2 separate regions of the Homo sapiens genome follow, and region 2 is linked to region 1. Evidence: fine-mapped expression QTL. A gene starts in region 1. The other region holds a variant in brackets. All regions are shown on one strand. Distances are between the middles of the regions.

Evidence for each region. PIP is the estimated chance that this variant, and not a neighbour inherited with it, causes the effect.
Region 2: its variant is fine-mapped to the expression of NEDD8 in whole blood (INTERVAL, PIP 0.95).

What each region holds. Positions count from the first base shown.
Region 1 is chr14:24,227,180-24,235,505 of GRCh38, forward strand. NEDD8 (NEDD8 ubiquitin like modifier) reads right to left here and starts at 5,188. Exons shown (of 4, transcript NM_006156.3): 1 at 5,071-5,188. The coding sequence starts at 5,088. NEDD8-MDP1 (NEDD8-MDP1 readthrough) reads right to left here and starts at 5,188. Exons shown (of 7, transcript NM_001199823.3): 1 at 5,071-5,188. The coding sequence starts at 5,088. It overlaps GMPR2 (guanosine monophosphate reductase 2), which reads left to right and starts at 5,750. Exons shown (of 10, transcript NM_001002002.3): 1 at 5,750-5,798; 2 at 6,040-6,161; 3 at 6,300-6,419. The coding sequence starts at 6,075. RefSeq lists enhancers at 5,052-5,917, 5,084-5,378.
Region 2 is chr14:24,164,993-24,173,318 of GRCh38, forward strand. IRF9 (interferon regulatory factor 9) reads left to right here. Exons shown (of 9, transcript NM_006084.5): 8 at 855-970; 9 at 1,130-1,573. The coding sequence ends at 1,204. It overlaps REC8 (REC8 meiotic recombination protein), which reads left to right and starts at 7,088. Exons shown (of 19, transcript NM_001048205.2): 1 at 7,088-7,616; 2 at 7,721-7,789; 3 at 7,907-8,049; 4 at 8,134-8,206; 5 at 8,299-8,326. The coding sequence starts at 7,561. RefSeq lists enhancers at 6,500-7,000, 7,069-7,318 and a silencer at 6,849-6,898. The variant C/T (reference allele first, on the strand shown) is at 4,354.

The DNA.
Region 1 (8,326 bases):
ACGTATGCTATTGTCAAAAACTCACTGAACTAAACCCTTAAGAACTGTGCATTTTACTGTATGTTAAAAAACATGAATGAGAAAACTGATTCACACAGTAAAGACAGTTGCCAAAGTAATCTGCAATGAGGAAATCAATGAAGGATCTGGGGTTAGGGAGTAATATAATGAAAAAGAAGCTAAAGGAAGACCTGCACATTATGGTTTTGTACGTCATGTCTTGGTTTAGACTACACTTTAGAGGGGATATGACGGTAGGAAAACCTGGTTGGATGTATTACAGAGACATAAACATATAAATGAGTAAGACCCGAGACCAGAATGAGGGTAATGGAGATGGAAACAAAAATCAAACAGAAAGAGCTTTTAAGTGAAAAATTAGATCTTATAAAAGGACCACGTAATTTTAAATGACTCTAAAGAATTGTATTCCAGACACCTGAATGATTGATGGGATTAATACACGAGATGGGTATTGGGATATGGCTTATGACAGAAGATGATGCATTTAATTTTAGAACCATAGAGACAAGGTAACAAGATTTAAATCAGGAAGAATTTAATTGTAAAATCTTATAGAAAAATATGGAAGAAGTCAGCTACACAGAGACAGCAGTTGAAAATGAATCATTCGGCTGGGCATGGTGGCTCACGCCTGTAATCCCAGCACTTCGGGAGGCCAAGGCAGGTGGATCACTTGAGCTCAGGAGTTCAAGACCAGCCTGGGCAACATGGTGAAACCCCACCTCTACTAAAAATACAGAAAATCAGCCAGGTGTGGTGGCATGTACCTGTAGTCCCAGCTACTTGGGAGGCTGAGTTGGGAGGATCCCTTGAGCCTGGGAGGTGGAGGTTGCAGTGAGCCGAGATCATACCACTGCACTCCAGCCTGGGTGACAGAGTAAGAATGTCTCAAAACAAAAACAAAATGAGGCCAGGCGCGGTGGCTCATGCCTGTAATCCCAGCACTTTGGGAGGCTGAGGTGGGTGGATCACCTCAGGTCAGGCGTTCAAGACCAGCCTGGCAAACATGGCGAAACCCCGTCTCTACTAAAATACAAAAGTTAGCCGGGTATGGTGGTGGGCACTTGTAGTCCCAGCTACTTGGGAGGCTGAGGCAGGAGCATCGCTTGAACCCAAGAGGCGGAGGTTGCAATGAGCCAAGATCGTGCCACTGTACTCCAGCCTGGGCGACAGAGTGAGACTCCATCTCAAAAGCAAAACAAAACAAAAATAATAATAATTCAAAAAGGGGTCAGATATGGTAGCTCACGGCTGTAATCCCAGCACTTTAGGAAGATGAGGTGGGAAGATCACTTGACCCCAGAAGTTTTAGACTAGCGTGGGCAACACGATGAGACCGCATCTCTACAAAAAAATAAAACAATTGGCTGGGTATGGTGGTAGCACACGCCTGTAGTCCCAGCTACTCAGGAGGCTCAGATGGGAGAATTGCTTGGGCCTGAGAGGTCGAGGCTGCAGTAAGCTGTGATGGCACCACTGCACCCTAAGCCTGGGCGACAGAGTGAGAACCTGTCTCAAAAAAAAAAAAAAAAAAAAAAAGGAACTGTAATAAAAAATGTCACTTATATGGTAATTAACAGCTCTTTTTTTTCTTTTTTAAATTAATATTTTCTTCAGATCAGATTAACAGCTATCTCATGTGTAACTACTTTCCTATGTATTTAATTAAGAAATGCAACAAACAAGAGGGGATGGGGCGAGAGGGGGAGATAGAGAGAGATGGGGCACAGAGGCCTGTTTGAAGGCAGAAGGGTGTTGCAGGAAAGAAGACTGGCAATTTTAGAGAAGTACCACATAAATATGGATTCAAAGAAACAGAAAAAATCTAGAATCTTGCTATTCAAAGTGTAGCTCTCAGACATTCAATATCACCTGGGAGTTTGTGAGAAATGCAGAAACCTGTGCCCCACCTTAGACCCACAGAATCATAATCAGCATTTTAGCAAGACCACAGGTGATAGGACACTGTATTTTCAAGTTTCCACACACAGCATTGATTTTTTTGTTCAAACAGTTATTTTATTTATTTATTTTTTGAGACAGTCTCACTCTGTTGCCCAGGCTGGAGTGCAATGGCACGATCTTGGCTCACTGCAACCTCTGCCTCCCAGGTTCAAGCAATTCTCCTGCCTCACCCTGTCAAGTGGCTGGGACTACAGGTGTGTGCCACCACACTCGGCTAATTTTTGTATTTTTAGTAGAGACGGGGTTTCACCATGTTGGCCAGGCTGGTCTTGAACTCCTGACCTCGTGATCCGCCCGCCTTGGCCTCCCAAAGTGCTGGGATTACAGGCGTGAGCCACCACGCCTGGCCTTTCAAACAGTACTTTTTAAACTGCAGGTCTCAACCCATCAGTGGGCAGGTCTCAACCCATCAGTGGGTTATGAAATCAACTTAGAATTGAAAGTCTGAGAGCATATCACAAATAGCAAAGTTTTTGTGCCTTATGGGTTGTGACATAAAATTTCTTAATGTGGAGTGAAATTTTCAAAAAGTGTACAAAACACTTAGCATTAGTAACTTAACTTCTTTGGACCTAGTGGACATGAGAACCCATATGCATTGAAAAGCCAACAGAAGTATTCAACAGGCCGGGCGCGGTGGCTCATGACTGTAATCTCAACACTTTAGGCGGAGGTGAGCGGATCACTAGGTCAAGAGATCGATACCATCCTGGCCAACCTGGTGAAACCCCGTTTCTACTAAAAATACAAAAATTAGCTGGGCGTGGTGGCACACCCTGTAGTCCCAGCTAGTCAGGAAGCTGAGGCAGGAGAATCGCTTGAACCCGGGAGGCGGAGGTTGCAGTGAGCCGACATTGCGCCACTGCACTCCAGCCTGGTGACAGAGGGAGACTCCGTCTCAAATAAAAATATTCAACAGTTAGTGTTTCTCAAGATTTTGACAGTGATCCATTCTAAAAATTAGTATGAACTAGTAACACCCCCTGTGTAATATACATATAAAATAAAATAAAAAATTTCAGGCCTGGCAACAGAGTGAGACTCTGTCTCAAAAAAAAAAAAAAAAAAAAAAAAAAAGGCCAGGCACGGGGGAGGGTGGCTCACACCTGTAATCCCAGCACTTTGGGAGGCAGAGGCGGGCGGATCACGAGGTCAGGAGATCGAGACCATCCTGGCTAACATGGTGAAACCCTGTCTCTACTAAAAATACAAAAAAATTAGCTGGGCGTGGTGGCAGGCGCCTGTAGTCCCAGCTACTCGGGAGGCTGAGGCAGGAGAATGGCATGAACCCGGGAGGCGAAGCTTGCAGTGAGCCGAGATGGCGCCACTGCACTCCAGCCTGGGCGACAGAGCGAGACTCTGTCTCAAAAAAAAAAAAAAAAAAAATCATAAAACAATATCCTTACCTAGCACTATATTATTTCCTATTTTCTCCCCCTCTCTCTTTCTTTTTTTTTTTTGCAGGGGGAGATGGAGTTTCACTCTTGTCGCCCAGGCTGGAGTGCAATGGCGCCATCTCAGCTCACTGCAATCTCCGCCTCCCAGGTTCAAGGGATTCTCCTGCCTTAGCCTCCGAGTAGCTGGGATTATAGGCGCCCACCACCACGCCCGGCTAGTTTTTGTATTGTTAGTAGAGGCGGGGTTTCACCATGTTGGCCAGGCTGGTCTTGAACTCCTCACCTTAGGTGATCCACCCACCTCGGCCTCCCAAAGTGCTGGGATTACAGGCGTGAGCCACTGGGCCCGGCCTTTTTTTTCAGGCAGGGTCTGGAGTGCAGTGGTGCCATCACTGCTCACCGCGGCTTCGACATCCCAGGATCAATCAATCCTCCCATCTCGGCCTCCCGAATAGCTGGGCCTACAGGCATGCGCCCAGACCCTTGGCTAATTTTTTGAATTTATTGTACAGGCAGGGTTTCGCCATGTTGCCCAGGATGGTCTCCAACTCCTGGGCTCAAGCGATCGGCCTGCCTCGGCCTTCCAAAGTGCTGGGATTACAGGCGTGAGCCACCGCGCCCAGCCTATTTTCTCTTTTTAATGGCGCCAGTGACCCATTCACCTATTAAATTGATGTTACGACTCTTATATAGGCCGCTACTCAACGTTAAAAAAAATCATCTTTAACATACTATTTTAATACTAGACCTCAAATCTTAGCTAAGAAGTAGTTTGGAAGGACTGGGGAAGAGAAGGTTAAGAATGACTATTATGTACGGTAAATATGCTAAGAAGCTGATGAAATAACGATAGATTTACTTAGCTACAAAAAGGCCAAACTAGCATTAGACTTCACTTGTCAGCAGTTTTGTTTTTTTGAGGGGGGCGTGGGGGGGGGGGTCTCTGTCTGTCTGAAGGCACAAAAGAGGAAACAGCAGATAGGACTAACGAGGGCTGGAAATTGGTGAAGAACCACCACGGGAGTTGAGAGATGCAGATGAAGGAAACCATGGCTAGTAGCAAGAACTAGGGCAGCGGTAACTAACCTGCCTCAGCCAAGGAAGTGAGGCTGGTCCAGGATGCCAGGCTCAGAAAGGCAGGTACTGACTGAACACACTCCCCGCTTTGGTTCCTGTAGGACGGGTGAGATACCACACCTTGGCAACCACCAGTAAAGGCTCATAGTCTAGCCCTTGGGAGGCCCCGATTTTAGGGCTGTGCTCGGAGGCGACCTACGTTAGGGACTGGGAGAAGCAGGTACCCTGGGAATGAAGAATGGAGAGCAGCGCTTACTCCAAGAATCTGAGAGACGGGGGAGTCAAGCCGCTGCTAGGCCTTCTCTATGACTGCGGGGGTTCGAATACAGTGAGACCCGACAAAAGCGACCCCATTCTGGGTGATAGCACAGTCCTGGCAAAAAAGCAGGCATGGCAAAATACCCCAGGGTCGTCAGGTGGGACCTGGGCCCCGCTCTCAAAGCCCTTCTGGGTCCCCCTATTTCCCACCACCCCTCGCGCGGAGCCCTGAGGCAGTCAGCGTCCTCCAGGCTAGGGAAAGGCGTGGTTTTCCTTCCCCACGTCTCCCGTAAGGCACTGCTGCCAGCCCAGTACTACTGCGTCTTGGCAAGGCTGGAGGTGCTCCCACCTTCACTTTAATTAGCATCTTCTTTCCAGTTTGGGGCTGCACACGGATAAATTGCTGCTCCTACCGCTCCGGTCGCCGCTGCCGCCCTCCAGCACTCTTGCCTGCAAGGGCCACTTCTACTTCCGGGTCACTGTCTGGCTCCACCCCCCCCCCCCCCCCCACTGGGTTCCGGAAAGGCTCAGGGTTGCTCCCGCGTTTCGGTTCAGTGACGTCGTAAATTGGAATGAGGCATCCAGTTTAGCAACAGCAGAGATGACGACTCTGCGATTCTGAGAGTCCCTGGCGAGCCCGGGCTAGCGAAAAGTGGGGGCAGAACGAACTACATCTCCCATCGTGCCAGGAGGCGGTCCCGCCCGTTTCCCCCTGGGAGTTGTAGTCTAACCCCCTCGGATCCAACAGCAACCTCAGTGCGTGAACTCTGTTATCCAGAAGGCCTCGCCCTGCCGCCGCCGAAGCTGGAATTCGTCGGCTAGTAGTTCTCGCCGGCAACTAGAGGAACCTGTTGGCGTGGCCCAGAAGGCTTAGCGGGATTGCACGAGGTTAGTTGCTAAGCAAGGTGGTCTTTGGTCAACTGCCGCCTGGACCAAGGCAACAGGAAGTGAGTACCTCTATTCCGGAAACTAGTTATGAACCCTCCCCGCCCCCCGTCGCCAACATTCCTTCGTTCCCCTAAATCAGCCTCTTGCCCCATTGCTCTTTGCAGGGGTAGAAGAAGGAAGTGTAGCGGGGTAAGGAATGCACCGTCAGGGTCTCTCACAACCCTTTCCCAGCTCTCCTCCCCAACAAACAGTACCTGGGATGGAGCCCTAGGGTAATCGCAGCCACGGGATGGGTCGAGGTGACAGGCTTCAGGGACCACACTTCGGCCTTTGCCCGACCTTCCACAACTTAAGCGAAGAGAGGCCACCAGCCGTAACAGGGCGTTAAAGCCCAGGGGAAGATTGGTCCTTATGACTTCCTGCCTTCCAGCCCTCAGATTCATCGCTACCCCGAGGCTAAGCGCCATGCCTCATATTGACAACGATGTGAAACTGGACTTCAAGGATGTCCTTTTGAGGCCCAAACGCAGTACCCTTAAGTCTCGAAGTGAGGTGAGCAAGCTTCTCTACTTGCTGTTTCTTGACCCCACGCTCCCGGTGGGCCACAACCAAGAAAGATGCCTGTCCTTGTCCTAATATGGTACGTTTTTTGGATTAATGAAATGGTCAATTTCCTGTTCATATCTGCAGGTGGATCTCACAAGATCCTTTTCATTTCGGAACTCAAAGCAGACATACTCTGGGGTTCCCATCATTGCTGCCAATATGGATACTGTGGGCACCTTTGAGATGGCCAAGGTTCTCTGTAAGGTAGGGCTTTCCTCATGCCCCATCCCTATTGGTGTCCAGTTAGCCCAGCTGACTGCAGAGGTGTTTGCATCCCCACCCCCATGCCCAGTCAGTTCTCTGGCAGTTAGCAGTCAGGATGCTCTGATTTACGGTTTTTTCCACTACTGAAGCCCTTTATCTGATAAGTTCAAAAGGCCATCTGAATTAGTGAGATTCAAAGCTAAGTTCTGCTCCGATATTTCTGATATATGAACAGAATTTTCCCTTTTGTCCTGTTTAGCAGTTTGTACACCTTGCCAACTTTTCCCACCACCCAGGTCACCCCCTCACAGTCACATGCATCCCTTCAGTTATGCGATTGTCCACATTAAGCATTCACTGTTTTAGTCCAGAAACTACAGTTTAAGCATTCAAAAATCCTAACTAGAAGATCCTAGGAGAAGCAGCTTATTAATTTTCTTTAATAAGAACAATTCATTAATAAAAGAATACTTCTGCCATTCTTTTTTTAATCTTCCTCTTCTTTAAGTCCTAGGTTCCTGGGAGTTTCTGGGATGTGCCCCAAATGGGATGTGTTTTTCTTATATACAAGTTGTTCACTTTGAAATGGAAGATGCTGCTCCTGTCAGTACTATTACCTGCCTCTATACTTGTTGCTGAGAAGGTAGAGAGTTATCTGGGCACTTTGAGAACATATGCACTCTGCTGGTTGATCCATGTAGCCCTGGTTGATGAATTCTGCTATTGTTTGTGGCTCCATTAGTCTTAAGGACTTCATATCCTTTTTCTATTTTTGATTGCTGTGTCTTTGTGGAATGTCTTGTCATTTCTTTAAGGTTGATAGTTATGCAGTTTTATTTTTACTTTATTTTTATTGCCATTCAGTAACTGCTTAGGAATCTTTCTGTTGCCCACTGTCCATCTGCCCTGACCAGTAGAGTTCAGAATTGGTGACTCTGACTGCAGAGTTAACAGGCGTGCTGTAATACATGAACCTTTTTGGGGACTGTCTTGATGCTTTATGTGGAGCCTGGCTTTCAGTATTGCTGACGAGAGGTAAAGAAATCAGGTTTTAGAGATAAGAGCCAAGTCTTACTGTAATAAAAAGGTTGGATGCAAGCAAACATCTTTTTCTAAGTTTGGTATGTAATCTGATGTGCTCATCATGCCACACTCTGCCAGTATATCTCCAACATCTGCTGACTTCCTATCCTATGGTGACTTTTCTTTGCTTATCAGTATGTTGATGATAGAGTTGTTGAGAAAGCAGAATTCAATACCAGCTTTAGCTAGATATTGTTGATCTCTGAGTACGTATGTAGAGCACTTGTTGCTAGCTAATACATGACTTCCTTGGGTTTCTTGTTAGTTGCAAGATTTGTGCTGTTTCAGCCAACTGCTGTCTCTTGTCTGTTTGCATGTAGACATGTAAGGCACAAACACCAGCATACACAATGGCCTTTGAATGCCTTCCTCAAAGTATTGGGATATTGTTTGCAATCTGTTGAGCTAGAGAATATGAGTTTGATGAGTCATTATGTCCTTGAACTTTATTAAAATGGACTGAATGAAACAGATTTTTTAGCTTGATCCATGTCCCCAACTAGGAAATTTGTCCTTTTTTCCACTAGAGATGGAGACAGGGTAGGGTAGCCCCTTATCAGCTCTTATCAACCTTAAGGCATTACCTTTGGTGAGCATCCAGATCTACTGAATTACTGCTGGTAAATGAACGAGAACATAACCAAAAATAGTTTAGTACTAGGTTACCTTAGGAGGAGGGGCTGAGTCAGTGCAGAGAAACACAGGCTCCATCCAGCTTCTTCATGGTTCTTTCATGTCTGCTGCCTGTCCCACTGCACCAGCAGCTTGTCACCTTTTAAGTCAGAAGCAGTGAATGTGCTGGCAGATGAAATCCAACCCAGATC
Region 2 (8,326 bases), 62 kb before region 1:
CCTACCTCTTAGTACCCCCTGGGCCCAACTTGTTGGGTCCTGCTACCTCCCTATCTGCCAGCAGATCCTCCATGTAGCCTATGCATGGCACTCCTGCGCTTGTGTGTTGCATATCCTGTGTGGCCATATGCCCAGCCTGGCAGCTACCTGGCAGCTCTCCTCCAGCCAAGACAATGGAAGAGGTGGTTCAGGTAGAGCCCAGCACAAGAGTGTCATATCTTGGAGAACACCATCACACTGAAGCATGCAGTCACTATGTGAAGGTGCACAGAAGAATTGGCACAGAGATTTTGAGCCTCATGGCCTTCTCCTACGTACACACATTTGGGAGAGCTGGCACACATCACACACACTGGCCCTGGCTGCACCGTCTTTACCACACTCCAGGCATGCCTTAGGGTTGCGCTTCTCTCCCATCCAATTCCAGCTCCTACTCAATTCTAAACCTGACCTTAAGAGTGGGACCAGGTGTACAGGGGGTGCAGAGTGTGGGTGTTCCCAGGGCCATGGGTGCCCTAGCACTGGGAGGATGTGAGCAAGTAGCAAAGGTCTGGGCACATCTGAGTTAGCAGCCAGGGCTGCTACCTGGGAGGACTCTAAACTCTCCCAGCAGAGAGCTTGTCGGGCTGTGCTGTGATCTGCTACTTCTAAGCACTTATATGAGGCAGGGGCACCCTTTCCTATTTGCACATGGGTGAGTAGCACTTAGTTCCAAGTACTTCTGACCTTGCAGCTCCTGCTCTGGCAAGACCCCCTCCTACCTCTCTCCATCATGGGTTCCTCACTATTGCCTCCCTGCCTGTGGCCCTCTCTCTTCTTTTTGTTCTTCGAACCCTTGACCCTTTCTCTTTCAGACTTGGTCAGGTACTTTCAGGGCCTGGGCCCCCCACCGAAGTTCCAGGTAACACTGAATTTCTGGGAAGAGAGCCATGGCTCCAGCCATACTCCACAGAATCTTATCACAGTGAAGGTGAGCTCGGAGCAGGGGTAGAGTACCCATCTAATGAGAGCAGAGACAGTGGTGCTCCAGGAGGCAAAGGGGGTCTCCCAGTGGGGAAGGAGCTCCTGGGGGTGGTGTCTGTCCCTGATGCACGCACTGAGATGCTCTTCTCCATCTCTTCCAATACAGATGGAGCAGGCCTTTGCCCGATACTTGCTGGAGCAGACTCCAGAGCAGCAGGCAGCCATTCTGTCCCTGGTGTAGAGCCTGGGGGACCCATCTTCCACCTCACCTCTTTGTTCTTCCTGTCTCCTTTGAAGTAGACTCATTCTTCACACGATTGACCTGTCCTCTTTGTGATAATTCTCAGTAGTTGTCCGTGATAATCGTGTCCTGAAAATCCTCGCACACACTGGCTGGTGGAGAACTCAAGGCTAATTTTTTATCCTTTTTTTTTTTTAATTTTGAGATATACGCCCTCTTTCATCTGTAAGGGACTAGGAAATTCCAAATGGTGTGAACCCAGGGGGCCTTTCCCTCTTCCCTGACCTCCCAACTCTAAAGCCAAGCACTTTATATTTTCCTCTTAGATATTCACTAAGGACTTAAAATAAAATTTTATTGAAAGAGGAATCAGTATCTGATTTTCTGGGAGAAGAAGGTAGCAGTGGTCACAGATAGAGATGTAAACTTAAGAGTGGGGCACTGGGGTTCTCTTCCTGCTGACATCTCCAGCCTCTTTCCTCTCCTCTGCCCACAGGTTCTGGCTAAGATGCTGCCTGGGCCCTGTGGGTCCTGGGCCTGGCACTCTACAGAGGTACCCTCTGGGCAGATAAGATTAGGGTGTGGGTTGGGCACCAAGCCTTCAGCCAGGCACTATAGCCACCAACTTCACATGGTAAAGTCTGGGCTCCACAGTTCTTGCTAGAAGGCCCCAACATCGGGCCTGAGGTTAGTTAGATTGGAGGTCTAAATGAAGAGGAGACACTTGAGGGTGACCTGAAACTATGGTCTAGAGGCCCTGGGACCTGAGAACAGAGGAGTCAGAGAGAAGAGTTGCTGAAACTGTACCTGCTGTTACTGGCACCTCTTCCTCCAGCACAATTTCACTGTCACCCCAGCAGGGTACTCCCAAACTGGATTCCTTGCTCTATCTAAGCCCCATAAAAGACACTCTGGCCGGCTGGGCGCAGTGGCTCACACCTATAATCCCAGCACTTTGGGAGGCCAAGGTGGGTGGATCACTTGAGATCAGGAGTTCGAGACCAGCCTGGCCAACACGGTGAAACAGCGTCTCTTCTAAAAATACAAAAATTAGCCAGGCCTGGTGGCGGGCACCTGTAATCTCAGCTACTTGGGAGGCTGAGGCAGGAGAATCGCTTGAACCCGGGAGGCGGAGGTTGCAGTGAGCCAAGATCGTGCTATTGTACTCCAGCCTGGGCAACAAGAGCGAGACTCTGTCTCAAGATTAAAAAAGAAAAAAAAAAAAAGCACTCCGGCCTAGACTGCCATGTCATGCTGTTCATGAGACTTGAGGGCTCCAAATTGGCTGACACTCTTCTTTCCCCCATGTTCATTTTACTACGAAACTGGAAGTTTTTCCTTCACCACAAGGCCACTTGTCACCTACTTTTTTGTACACTCACTTCCAGCAAACTAGTTCCAACCCAGGCCACAGCCTTCAGCTTCCTTCTTCCTGCATATGACACCAGCTTAGCTTTCCAGACTTCCTTCTGTCATTTCACCCTTCAGCCCTCAATGGTTCACACACATGATCAAATCTGGATGCCTAAGTCTTCCTAGGACCTTCTTGCTGCCTCATTTGACAAGCTTCAGTGCTGCCTTTGAGCCTCCCTGCCTCCATGGACCTCCCTTCTTCCCTTCAGTCTTGTCCATCATCCCACTGGGAAGCCAAGCACCTAGACATTCTCTGCACTAGCAGTGAAGAAATGAGGTACTGAATGCAGAGGTGTACAAACCCTGTTGTGCCCTCAATGTGATGCAATGTGATGAAATCCTTCCTGGACCTTCTTTGTACAAGGTCTAAATTATCTCCTTGACTTCCATTTTATTTTAATTATTTTGATTAAAAACAAAAACTTGGCTGGGCATTGTGGCTCACACCTGGAATCCCAGTAATTTGAGAGGCCGAGGTGGGTGGATCACCTGACGTCAGGAGTTCGAGACCAGCCTGGCCAACATGGTGAAACCCCGTCTCTACTAAAAATGCAAAAAATTAGCCAGGCGTGTTGGTGGACACCTGTAATCCCAGCTACTTGGGAGCCTGAGGCAGGAGAATCGCTTAAACCCAGGAGGCGGAGGTTGCAGTGAGCCGAGATTGCACCACTGCACTCGAGCCTGGGCAAAAAGAGCAAAACTCCATCTCAAAAAAAAAAAATTTTTTTTTTCGGCTGGGCGTGGTGGTTTATGTCTGTAATCCTGGCACTTTGGGAGATCGAAGTGAGAAGACTGCCTTAGCCCAGGAGTTTGAGACTAGCCTGGGTGACATAGTGAAACCCTACTTCTACAAAAAATTCTTTTTTTTTTTTTTGAGACAGAGTCTCACTCTGTTGCCCAGGCTGGAGTGCAGTAGTGCAATCTTGGCTCACTGCAACCTCCACCTCCTGGGTTCAAGTGATCCTCCTGCCTCAGCCTTCTGAGTATCTGGGATTACAGGTGCGCACCGCTATGCCAGGCTAATTTTTGTATTTTTAGTAGAGACAGGGTTTCACCATGTTGGCTAGGCTGGTCTCGAACTCCTGACTTCAGGTGATCTGCCCACCTCAGCTTCCCAAAGTGCTGGGATTACAGGCGTGAGCCACTGCACCTGGCTCCCAAAAATTCTTAAAAATTAGCCAGGTGAGGCCAGGCATGGTGGCTCACACCTGTAATCCTTGCACTTTGGAAGGCCCAGGTGGGTGGATCACTTGAGGTCAGAAGTTCGAGACCAGCCTGACCAACATGGTGAAACCCCATCTCTACTAAAAATATAAAAAAAATCAGCTGGGCATGGTGGCACATGCCTATAATCCCAGCTACTTGGGAGGCTGAGGCAGGAGAATCACTTGAACCCAGGAGGCAGAGGTTGCAGTGAGCCAAGATCGTGCCATTGCATTCCAAGCCTGGGCATCAAGAGCGAAACTCCATCTCAAAAAAAAAAAGTGGGGGAAAAAAAAAAGCCAGGTGTGGTGGTGTGTGCCTATAGTCCCAACTACTTGACCTCCTAAAGTGCTGGGATTACAGGTGTGAGCTACTATACCTGGCCTCCTTCCGTTTTCTATCATACCCCACATCCAATTCATCAGCAAATCCTGTCGCTCGCTATTCCTTCAATATGTATCCAGGGTCTGACCACTTCTCTCTGTTCCCATCAGCAACACTTTGGAACAAACTACCACCATCTCTCATGTCTC[C/T]TCCTCTGCTTCCTTCACATCTGTTTCCACACGTGTCTACCTTAAGCTATTCTCAACACAGTAGAGATTCTTTTCACATGTAATTCTGATCATGTCACTCCTCTGCTCAGAACCTTCCAGTGGGTCCCAAATCACCCAGGGTAAAAGCCCAAATCCCCATAAGGACCTCTGAGGTCCTGTGATGCGACCCTACCCTCCTCTCTCTCTCTCTCTCGCCCCTTGCCATTCTTCCCCTGTCACTTTGCTCCAGGCTCCTTGAACCCACCAAACACATTTCTACCTCAGGGTCTTTGCATTTGCTGGTTCTTTTGTCTAAATTACTCTTCCTTCAGGTAGGCACATGACTTACCCACATTCTTCAAATTTTATCTCTTAAGAGAGGGGGCAAGGCTTCCCTGAGTACCCTCCCTAAATAGCAGCCGTCATTATTCTATCCTCCTATGCTGCCTCATTTTCTTCATAGCACTTACGGCCACTTCATGTATTTCTTTTTTTCTTTCTTTCTTTTTTTTTTTTTTTTTGACAGAATCGCCCATGCTGGAGCACAGCAGTGCAATCATGGCTCACTGCAGCCTCGACCTTCGGCTCAATCGATCCTCCTGTCTCAGCCTTCTGAGTAGCTGTGACTATAGGCATGTAATTTGAGAGGCCGAGGCGGGTGTCACCTGAGGTCAGGAGTTTGAGACCAGCCTGGCCAACATGGTTGAAACCCTGTCTCTACTAAAAATACAAAAAAATTAGCCAGGCATAGTGGCACATGCCTGTAGTCCCAGCTACTCAGGAGGCTTAGGTAGGAGAATTGCTTGAACCCAGGAGGCGGAGGTTGCACTGAGCCAAGATGGTCCATTGCACTCCAGCCTGGGCGACAAGCAAAATTCCATCTCAGAAAAAAAAAAAAAAAAAAAAAAAAAAAACTCTCAAATTGAAGGGGACTGTAAGAAGATAGGGTCAGCTCAGCTGCAGTAAGATATAAGTCTCAGGAAGAAGCATGCTCTGGAGTCAAGGCAGAGAAGGACATTCTAGGCCAAAGAAATGGCTGTGCAAAGGTAGGAGGCATAGGGACAAGGGTTATTATTACAACTGTACCTCTTAAATTTACACAATAATTGTTGAGAATATGGCTTTTCCAGGCTAGGAAGTTGTGCTGCATCCAAAAATGCTAAAGTCTATTTCAGCCGGGAGAACACTGACAGCTGGGAAAGGACCACACGTGGCGTGCCCATAACCTAAGTTGTTCAGATTTAGGAAGTGACCCCAGTAAGTCCTTTCGGAGTTTCGTGTAAGATTGACTTCTTCAGCTGGGGGCAGTGGCTCACGCCTGTAATCCCAGCACTTTGGGAGGCCAAGGCGGGCGGATCACCTGAGGTCAGGAGTTCGAGACCAGCCTGGCCAACATGGTGAAACCCCTGTCTCTACTAAAAAATACAAAATTTAGCCAGGTGTGGTGGTGGGCGCCTGTAATCCCAGCTACTCGGGAGCCTGAGGCAGGAGAATCCCCTGCACCGGGGAGGCGGAGGCTGCAATGAGCTGAGACTGCGCCACTGCACTCCAGCCTGGGTGACAGAGTGAAACTCCATCTCAAAAAAAAAAGAAACCAGCCTGGCCAACATAGTGAAATCCCGTCTCTTCTAAAAATGCAAAAATTAGTTGGGTGTGATGGAGGGCGCCTGTAATCCCAGCTACTCAGGAGGCCAAGACACGAGAATCGCTTGAACCTGAGGGGATGGGGGGCAGAGGATGCAGTGAGCCGAGATTGCCGAGATAGCGCCACTGCATTCCAGCCTGGGCAACAGTGAGAGCCTCCATCTCAAAAAAAAAAAAAAAAAATGGACTTCTTCCTCATTGACCTGTGGTGGCTCCAAGGCCATCAAAAAAAAAAAAAATGGACTTCTTCCTCATTGACCTGTGGTGGCTCCAAGGCCATCATCTCACAGCCTTTTTTTTTTTTTTTTTTTTTGAGACGGAGTCTTGCTCCCTTGCCCAGGTTGGAGTGGAGCTGCATGATCTCGGCTCACTGCAACCTCCGCCTCCCAGGTTCAAGCATTCTCCTGCCTCAGCCTCCTGAGTAGCTGGGATTACAGGCGCGTGCCACCACGCCCAGCTAACTTTTGCATTTTTAATAGAGACGGGGTTTCACCATATTGGTCAGGCTGGACTCGAACTCCTAACCTCATGATCCGCCCGCCTCGGCCTCCCAAAGTGCTAGGATTACAGGCGTGAGCCACTGCGCCCGGCCTCATCTCACATCTTTCTTCCTCTGCAGCACACGACACGCCCTAGTTGGAAACAAAGTCGGAGTTTGTGGATTGGGGGAAGGGCGGGGTCTAACCTCAGGTCAGGCGCCGTGCAAGGTACATCTTGGCACCCGGAAGAGGCCCAGTACAGTTGCCCCCGAGGTGACCCGACCTCCCCTACCAATTGAGGCGCCCTTGTTGCCAGGCTTGCGGCGGGGGAGCGGCGGGGGAGCGACGGGGATGCGCTCATTGGTCAAGGAAGGGGCGCCTGTTACTAGAGGCGAGAACCGGAGCCCATTGGTCGGAACACCTCACAATGGACCCCAGCGGCGCGCAAAATCCTTATGATTGGTTTGCTGGCTGCCTCGGGAGACCCTGTTGCCAGGATACTTGGCGTTCCCGACCCGACCCCCGTTCCCCATTGGCTGTCAGGGCAAAAGCCGCCATCTAATGAGGAGCGAGGTGCGGTGCCCCGAAGCGCTCGCTTCCCGCGGTGCGATCTAGTCCTGCAGTAGGCGGCCCGGGGCCACACCGCGGCCGCCCAAGCCAGTGCAAGGCCCAGGGGCCTGACATCGCTCCCAGCGCTCGAGGACCGAGGCCTGCTGTGGAGGACACCGTGCTCCCTCGGGACCTGCTCTGGATTCCGGCCCGGACGTCCCCTTGGAGCTCTGCATCTCCAACCTGGAACCCAACCCAGAAGTCTCAAGTTTGACGCATCACGTGGCGTGCGGATCCACTGAGGGTCCACAGAGAGGGGCGCCCATCTCCTGCGTCTCAGTTATCCTGGTAATTGTGTATCTGCCCATTGTTCGTTGCCTCATTAACTTGGCTTTCTAGGTGCACCCACCTTGCCACCAGAGAAGTCCAAATCCTGACTTCTCTCCAAGGTGTTGGGAATTCTGTGCCCTAAAGAATTCCGACTCAGATCCGAACGGGGATCTGGTGGAATCGAGGGTGAAAGACCAGAGGGACAATGTTCTACTATCCCAACGTGCTTCAGCGCCACACCGGCTGCTTTGCCACCATCTGGTAAGGGCGGGGCCCGTTGGCGCGCGATGGCGGACGCTGCCCGGGATCCCAGCCTGACAGCTCCCCCTCCATCCCCATTCTCCCACCTTCCCCACCCACTTCAGGCTGGCGGCGACTCGCGGCAGCCGGTTGGTGAAGCGCGAATACCTGAGGGTGAATGTGGTGAAAACCTGGTAAGGCCCAGAAAAGGGAAGGAGGGCCTGGTGCGGGGGGTGAGTTAGGGGATGGGGTGGCCAAGACTGTGGGCCCACTCCTGGACGCAGCGGTAATCAGGGCGCATTGTTCCCCAGCGAGGAAATCCTCAATTACGTGCTGGTACGAGTGCAACCCCCGCAGCCCGGCCTGCCGCGGCCCCGCTTCTCCCTCTATCTCTCAGCCCAACTTCAGATCGGTGTGATCCGCGTCTATTCTCAACAATGCCAGTACCTCGTGGGTAAGGCTGGGAACCCTCAAAGGTGGGGCGGGCTGAGCAGCTGTCTGCTAAGCTGGCTGTCTACCTCGTCCTCCCTGCCCACAGAGGACATCCAGCACATCTTGGAGCGCCTCCACCGTGCCCAGCTGCAGATCCGAATAGATATGGAGACTGAGCTGTGAGTGTGCCCTGGGCCTTTGATGGAACACCTGCTAGCTTGGCCTCAGCCTGGCTCAGCCTCAGTCCTTCACGGCCTACATTCTCTCCCAGACCCAGCCTGCTGCTTCCTAACCACCTG